Linked DNA regions of Homo sapiens. The protein of the gene in region 2 interacts with the protein of the main gene of each other region in a biochemical or structural test. Each region holds a gene or a part of one and is shown on either strand. Other genes may lie near its edges.

What was found.
Region 1: the proteins of DMD (region 2) and RUNX2 interact in a surface display test, tested with the Homo sapiens proteins (one large-scale study listed by IntAct).

Annotation. Positions count from the first base shown.
Region 1 is NC_000006.12:45,544,501-45,548,329, forward strand, and holds part of RUNX2 (runt-related transcription factor 2), read left to right. Parts: intron 1-716; coding exon 717-782; intron 783-2,326; coding exon 2,327-2,805; 3' UTR 2,806-3,829. UniProt on the Homo sapiens protein: Transcription factor involved in osteoblastic differentiation and skeletal morphogenesis. Essential for the maturation of osteoblasts and both intramembranous and endochondral ossification.
Region 2 is NC_000023.11:33,201,276-33,205,104, forward strand, and holds part of DMD (dystrophin), read right to left. Parts: intron 1-3,829. UniProt on the Homo sapiens protein: Anchors the extracellular matrix to the cytoskeleton via F-actin. Ligand for dystroglycan.

The DNA.
Region 1 (3,829 bases), on a different chromosome or scaffold from region 2:
TGTATTTTAAGTACAGATACACCTAAGAAGCAGTTTTTACATTAACATGTCTATCTGTGTGAACTCCATACTTCTGCAGGGGGCACACGTTGGCGTTTTAAGTGCGACTTCTTTCTGATACACGCTGTTCACATTATTCTGGTTCTTCTTATATGATCTAAATATTGAACTTAATGCATACAGAAGTGCCCTGCCCATCGCTGTTAGTTCTGCCAGCTCAAGGTCACCTGGATGCCCTGCAATGCAGAGGCTGCCTGAGGAACGTCTGTGGCCTCCATTTGGCCTCTGTATTGTACGAGGCAGGGCACAAGCACTGGGCGGGGGAAATGTTATGGAGCATCTGCTCCCATTTCTGATTCTGTCATAATCGCTGTTTCCACATTTTTAAATTTAAGCTTGTCAGAATTTCGTTTTTGGGAGGAATAGGTAGAGGCTAGTTGAGGATGGAAGAATTTATAAAAAGCAGAGAGTGACTGCCTGGGCTGTCAGTTTTGGTTCTTCATCTTGAAAGTGTTTGCTTCTGGCCTTAGAAGCTGCTCACTAGCTTTTACCCTCTGCTTATGGGCCTGCAGACTCTGGGAAATACTAATGAGGGATGGGAACCTCTCTGTCTACCCCTCCCCTAAGGCTGTTGCTTCTCCTTCTCTCTTGGAATTCATAGTCATAGAACATTAGAGCTGGAAGGGAACTTAGAGCTCATCCCCCTCATTTTACAGATGATGACACTGCCACCTCTGACTTCTGCCTCTGGCCTTCCACTCTCAGTAAGAAGAGCCAGGCAGGTGAGACTTTTAACAATTGCTGGGCTGGGCAGGGCTGGGCTGGGCTGGGCTGTCTGGTTGTTACTGTCCGATTTGTGAGTTTTGTTAACTATATGTTGCTTTTAAAGAGTCACTTTTTATTACAAATGCACATCATGGCACTTAACCCTTGCATTTTGTGAAGATTATAAGCAGTGTGCATTTTAACAAAAATTAATAACCTTCAATCAGCACCTTTAAAGAAAAGTGTTCGGATTATTCCCTTAATAAACATCGTAATATCCAAGAACAAGGTCTGAATAAAAATGAGGTGAAGAAGTACCCATTCATTAAAGTCCTCAAGAATTGTTTAGTGCTTTCCTTTATAGCTAAAAGCTGTAGGAGAAACAAATATATGAGATCTGAATAATCAAAATATTTTAGAAGGGAACAATATCTTAACAAGAGCACTGGTATTAGAAAAGGGCTTGTCACAATTCTGTCAATTCTAGAAAAATAATAATAAACCCAATCTTTAAAGGTCACAACTACAAGATTCTAGCATTTCAGAAAACAAATTTCCACATGAAATGGTTTATAACGGTGGTTTCATAACTTAGGCACCAGAAACATCTATTAAGGAGGCCTACTGTTAGCTTTAGAAGTGAAAGGACTTCATGTTTTAGGGGAAAACCATCTTTGCCTTCAGGTTACTGCTTCAAGTTGACCTGAAGCTGGTTCTGTAGGATGTGGTGCTGGGGCCTGGGAGACGGGTGGGGAGTGCCCTCCTCTTAATCTCCCCTAGGCAGCGAGCCTCTCGCAAAAGCTACTGTTAGCACCTGGTCTAAATCAGGTCACAAGTCTCCCATCAAGACTTGAAATCAATGATTCCTAAGGTACCAAGCCCCCTTGTGCCTCCTAACTCCCATTTTCAAAACCGACTGATCTAGTAGCTTATGACCCTCCCTATCCACCCCCAGAGAAGTTATGAGTTTCTGGTTTGATTTCACTGTTGCTAAGATGAGACCTCTGACAAGATTTTAAATTCTTTAAAGGCCTTAAAGGAAATGATAGGAACATGATAGGATATCTTTTTGATGTTCCTTCATTGATGAAAGAGCCTACCAAGAGTAAATAACAGTAAGACATTATTTTGGAATTTCTTTATATTGAGTTGAGGAAAATAAACTTGTCTGACTTAGTAAAAATTTCACTTCAAATATCTAAAGTGCAACGAGAAGCAAAAAGAGAAAAAAAATCCATGAGGATTTGGTTTTAAAGTCTGGTGAGTGAACCTATGTGATCAGAGTGTTGGGTTGGTTTACACATTGACCTGGCACACATGTGGGTTTTTAAAGCCCTCTGGGATTCTCTGGGGGTGAAGAACTTAAGGATCAATGCTGTTAAGACTGCAAAGTGGGGGAAAAAGACTGTAAAGTGACTGGTGCATTTGAAGGTCTGTCTGTGGCTTGCTGTTCCTTTATGGGAAAGCTAAAGTTTTCTCTTTTTTTTTCTTGTAACAATTCTATCATTATTTTAATTGATATTTACAGATTTTTCCCTCCATCTTCTGTTATAATTTTTAGGTGCTTCAGAACTGGGCCCTTTTTCAGACCCCAGGCAGTTCCCAAGCATTTCATCCCTCACTGAGAGCCGCTTCTCCAACCCACGAATGCACTATCCAGCCACCTTTACTTACACCCCGCCAGTCACCTCAGGCATGTCCCTCGGTATGTCCGCCACCACTCACTACCACACCTACCTGCCACCACCCTACCCCGGCTCTTCCCAAAGCCAGAGTGGACCCTTCCAGACCAGCAGCACTCCATATCTCTACTATGGCACTTCGTCAGGATCCTATCAGTTTCCCATGGTGCCGGGGGGAGACCGGTCTCCTTCCAGAATGCTTCCGCCATGCACCACCACCTCGAATGGCAGCACGCTATTAAATCCAAATTTGCCTAACCAGAATGATGGTGTTGACGCTGATGGAAGCCACAGCAGTTCCCCAACTGTTTTGAATTCTAGTGGCAGAATGGATGAATCTGTTTGGCGACCATATTGAAATTCCTCAGCAGTGGCCCAGTGGTATCTGGGGGCCACATCCCACACGTATCAATATATACATATATAGAGAGAGTGCATATATATGTATATCGATTAGCTATCTACAAAGTGCCTATTTTTTAGAAGATTTTTCATTCACTCACTCAGTCATGATCTTGCAGCCATAAGAGGGTAGATATTGAGAAGCAGAAGGCTCAAGAGAGACAATTGCAATCGAGCTTCAGATTGTTTACTATTTAAGATGTACTTTTACAAAGGAACAAAGAAGGGAAAAGGTATTTTTGTTTTTGTTGTTTGGTCTGTTATCATCAATAACCTGTTCATATGCCAATTCAGAGAGGTGGACTCCAGGTTCAGGAGGGAGAAGAGCAAAGCCGCTTCCTCTCTGTGCTTTGAAACTTCACACCCTCACGGTGGCAGCTGTGTATGGACCAGTGCCCTCCGCAGACAGCTCACAAAACCAGTTGAGGTGCACTAAAGGGACATGAGGTAGAATGGATGCTTCCATCACAGTACCATCATTCAGAATAACTCTTCCAATTTCTGCTTTCAGACATGCTGCAGGTCCTCATCTGAACTGTTGGGTTCGTTTTTTTTTTTTTTTTTCCTGCTCCAAGAAAGTGACTTCAAAAATAACTGATCAGGATAGATTATTTTATTTTACTTTTTAACACTCCTTCTCCCCTTTTCCCACTGAACCAAAAAGAAATCCCATCCCTAAAACCTGCCTTCTCCTTTTATGCAAAACTGAAAATGGCAATACATTATTATAGCCATAATGGTATAGATAGTGATTGCGTTTGGCTATGTGTTGTTTTCTTTTTTTTTAAATTATGAATATGTGTAAAATCTGAGGTAACTTGCTAACGTGAATGGTCATATAACTTTAAAGATATATTTATAATTATTTAATGACATTTGGACCCTTGAAACATTTCTTAGTGTATTGATATGTTGACTTCGGTCTCTAAAAGTGCTCTTTATTAAATAACAAATTTCTTCAGTGGTCTAGAGCCATATCT
Region 2 (3,829 bases):
TTCTGACTTCCCTTTGCCTCCCACCCTCATTTATACATCTTGAATAATTCTGTTCCATCACGATCTCTGACATTATTTTTAAATATGTAGATATGTGTGCATTCATTACCTCTTTATGAGATGAGAGAATAAAATTGCTTGTGAAGTCAGAGAAACTCAGTATTATTTCTAATCATATATATGAGAATGCCAATGTTGACGTTATCGTACAGAGTGCACATTGCTTAACTCCAGGGGTGTCATTTACCTCATAGCATAATATTAATAGTCCACGTTACTGGTACACTCTAGAATTGTACAGTGTACACTATATGAATGTATGCAACTAAATATCACACTGTGGATGACTAACATAATGAAGATAAGAGAAAAATTAGTTTATGTAAAAAGGCAACAGTAATTATAGTAACTTAAATAACCTACTGTTTATGCCAAGTACTATTCAGAATAGTATGGCACGTTAATCTATGTAAACCATTTTTTTACAATACTAAATCATGTTCAGGTTAGCCCAGTTCTTAGCTTTTTGTTCATGTAGCACAGTTGCCTGTACATAACTGAAATAAACTCTAAAAGAACAACTAGTGAGACCACTCTAAGGATGGCTAACTGTAGATGATTACAAACAAACCAGGGCTGCATTAGTTTTATTTTTGATCTTTTTCATCTTCACAAAGTAAGAAGAGTGAGATAGTAATAAAATTGTGAAACAAGATAACTGTTATGGATATTATCATAGACAGCTCCCTATGCAAGTCTAGAGAATGGGCATGAGTTATTTAGGATATCTCAGTTTTTATCTAAGAAAATATAATATGCCAATGTCTATAGGCTTTGAGTAAACAACCCAAAATTTTAATGGGTTTTATTTTTAAAGAGCATCCTCAATGGGACATGTCTAGTTCTTGTTAGAAGATACTATGATTCCTGCCATTTTATATTTTGTTCTATCCTTTTTAGAATTCTATTAAAATCTGAGAGATCGTGACAACTGACTGGTTAAGAATCTTTAATCCTACTGTCATGCTGCCACCATTAAAATCCTGACTCTACCACGTACCAGCTGAGCTACCTTAAGCAAATTACTTAATCTCCCTGTACCTCTACATATTCATCTGGTAAATTTAGATGATTATGTTTCCCCACCTTCTAGAGTTAATATGGAACTTATCACATATGTATGTGATGTAATCAGAGAAGTGCCTGACACTTATTACAGGCTTGTTAAATGGTAAATACAGTATTATCATTGAAGATTAGGTGAATCTAGAATAGTGCTATGCACACACAAGGTACTGTCAATAGCTGTGTATGTAAGACAGATCAATGTTTCATTAATCCTTTTTGCCTCACTGCTTCTTGCAATCATTCTCTAATTCACATCTCTGTATGTCCATACTCTTATGCCTATTTATAAAAATGGATTCTTCAATGAGAATGTCCATAATCACACTATTCATAAGTAATCATTTATGATTGATTTGTACCATGCTTTATAACTTTCTTGATATTTTATAGTAGTTGTACGCATATACATATGTGTGTGTATCTGTTCTCTGACTTAGAGTTGCTGTCTCATAAAAAGCAAAGAGAACATAGGTGTTCAACAATGTTGAGTTATAAGCAATTAAAAACCTAATGTTAAAAAAAGTTGCTCAATATCATATTACTATTCTATCGAGTCTTACTTCCTCCAAAGCTAACTGATAAGTACATTACATTCATCCATGATTAGATTGAATTACTCAAATGCCTTCTATCTCTTTATTGTGATTCTGGCTTTATTTAAACTGAAATGTCAATGTTTTCTAGGTATTTTTACCATTTTTGCAGATATTGGGATAATCACTTTCACTAACGGTCCTCCAGAATTTTTAGACATTTCTCCAATAAGCATCTATATTAACTAAACTAGCATTAAATAAAGTGCAAACTTACCTTGTCATAACTATGCAATTCTGTATTCTCTAAAGGATGATTTTTCATATTACTCAACAATTCTGACTGAGCAATTGAAATTGAGACTATGATAAATGTTTTACACTGAAGGCTCATTTCATTATACAGTAGTCAGTTGAAATGGGGTTTCCGAAGAAGGTATTTTTAGGAAGTGCAGAGTACAGGAAAAAGCTGAATACGTTATACAATTTAAATATTTATTGAAGCTTTTCTACTAAGGCAACATTTTGGTAATATTCACAGAAATAGCAATATGGGAGGAAATTAGGGGTAAATAGATGGTAGAGACTGTGGAAACCAAGACACCTAATGCTAAAAGTGGGATCCTCATTCATGAAGTCATTAAATTGGAGATCGAAAGGAACAGACCTCTTTATGGAAATATTATTTTCCTTAGAATTTCATCATTTTTTCTAGATGTGTCTTCTCTGATTTTTTTTTTTTAGTGCTTTTGTCTTCTTTATTGAATTTCCGATCTCCTCTTCACACTCTATTATCTTTCTAGCTGGTCTCATCCACTCCATGAGTTGCATATTTAAATCCCTAATAATGACTTCATTTCTAGGCACAATACCCACGCGCTACATAAAAATACAAAACAAAACAAACACCTTAGCATCCACACCCCTAATCCTTCCTGTTGTTCCAATTTCCCTTCCAATCTCCTTGCAAATGGCACCATTATCCACCCAGGTGTGCATTTCATGGAGCACACAGCATGCAATACAACACCAATTCCTATTGATTCTATCTCATATACAAATCTTGAATAGATTTACTTCTTTCATCTCCACTGTCCCCATTCTAGTCCAAATCACCTTCTTTTGGATGAGCTACCGTAATTGCTTCAGATTGATAGTCCTTCATCTACCCTAGGCACTTGCCAATCTCTTTCACACAAAACAGAGTGATAGTCTTAAAAAATACAAATATGTTTACATCAGTTTTCTACCTGAAACCCATAAGGCTGTCCATTGATCTTAGTATAAAGAGAAAAATAATTTCTATAACCTTCAAGGCTCTGAATGATTGGACCCCAGTCGGCCATTCAGATGCAAGCTTGTTCCACACTTTTCTGCCCTCACTGTACTCTAGGAAAGCTGTACTTGTTTTAGATCTTTCTCCATACCATTTTCCACATTCAGAAACATTGCTCCCTCTGACAGGGACATTTTTGCTCCCTCTTTTCTTTTGGACAACTATACTCTAACCTCATTCTTCTTTGCCTTGCTTTGAATATTTTTTTTTTCTCAGAAGTATTTCCCCAATTTCGAAGACTGGTCTAACTCTCCCTATTATACATTCTTATTACAATGTGTGCTTTATTCTATAGCCCTTATCTCCAATGCAAGTAGTTTGCGTGTGTGTGTATTTAATATGCACATCCTCCTTGAAATGCTAGTCTCTCTTTGAGTTCACTTGTTTAGAATACTATCGCCAGAGCATAGCACAGTACCTGGCACAAAATGGGCACTCAATATGTGTATTTGTTACATGGACAAATGAATCAATAAATGGATAACAAATCATCAGCTGTAAGTCCCTTCTTTAAACTGTGGTCACCCAAAACCACACAATACAAGTTTTAGAGAGTCACTTATTTTGATACTTTTATTTTTGGATTTATTTTGAGAGCCAATCCATTTTCAGACATTTAAAGTAAAACACTGCAAAAGCCATAGGCTTGAGCAAAGTGAACCTCTGTGATAACACTTGGTGCTCTCTGACAGCCCATTAGAGACGGGGTGTGTACACCTAATCCAAAGGAATCCTCTAGCTCTTCAGCAGCTGTTCACATGGCTCATGCCCTGCCCTTCAGCGTCTACTAAATCAGGATTCCCCAGCTGTCTGAGCTTCCCGTAAGCGATTT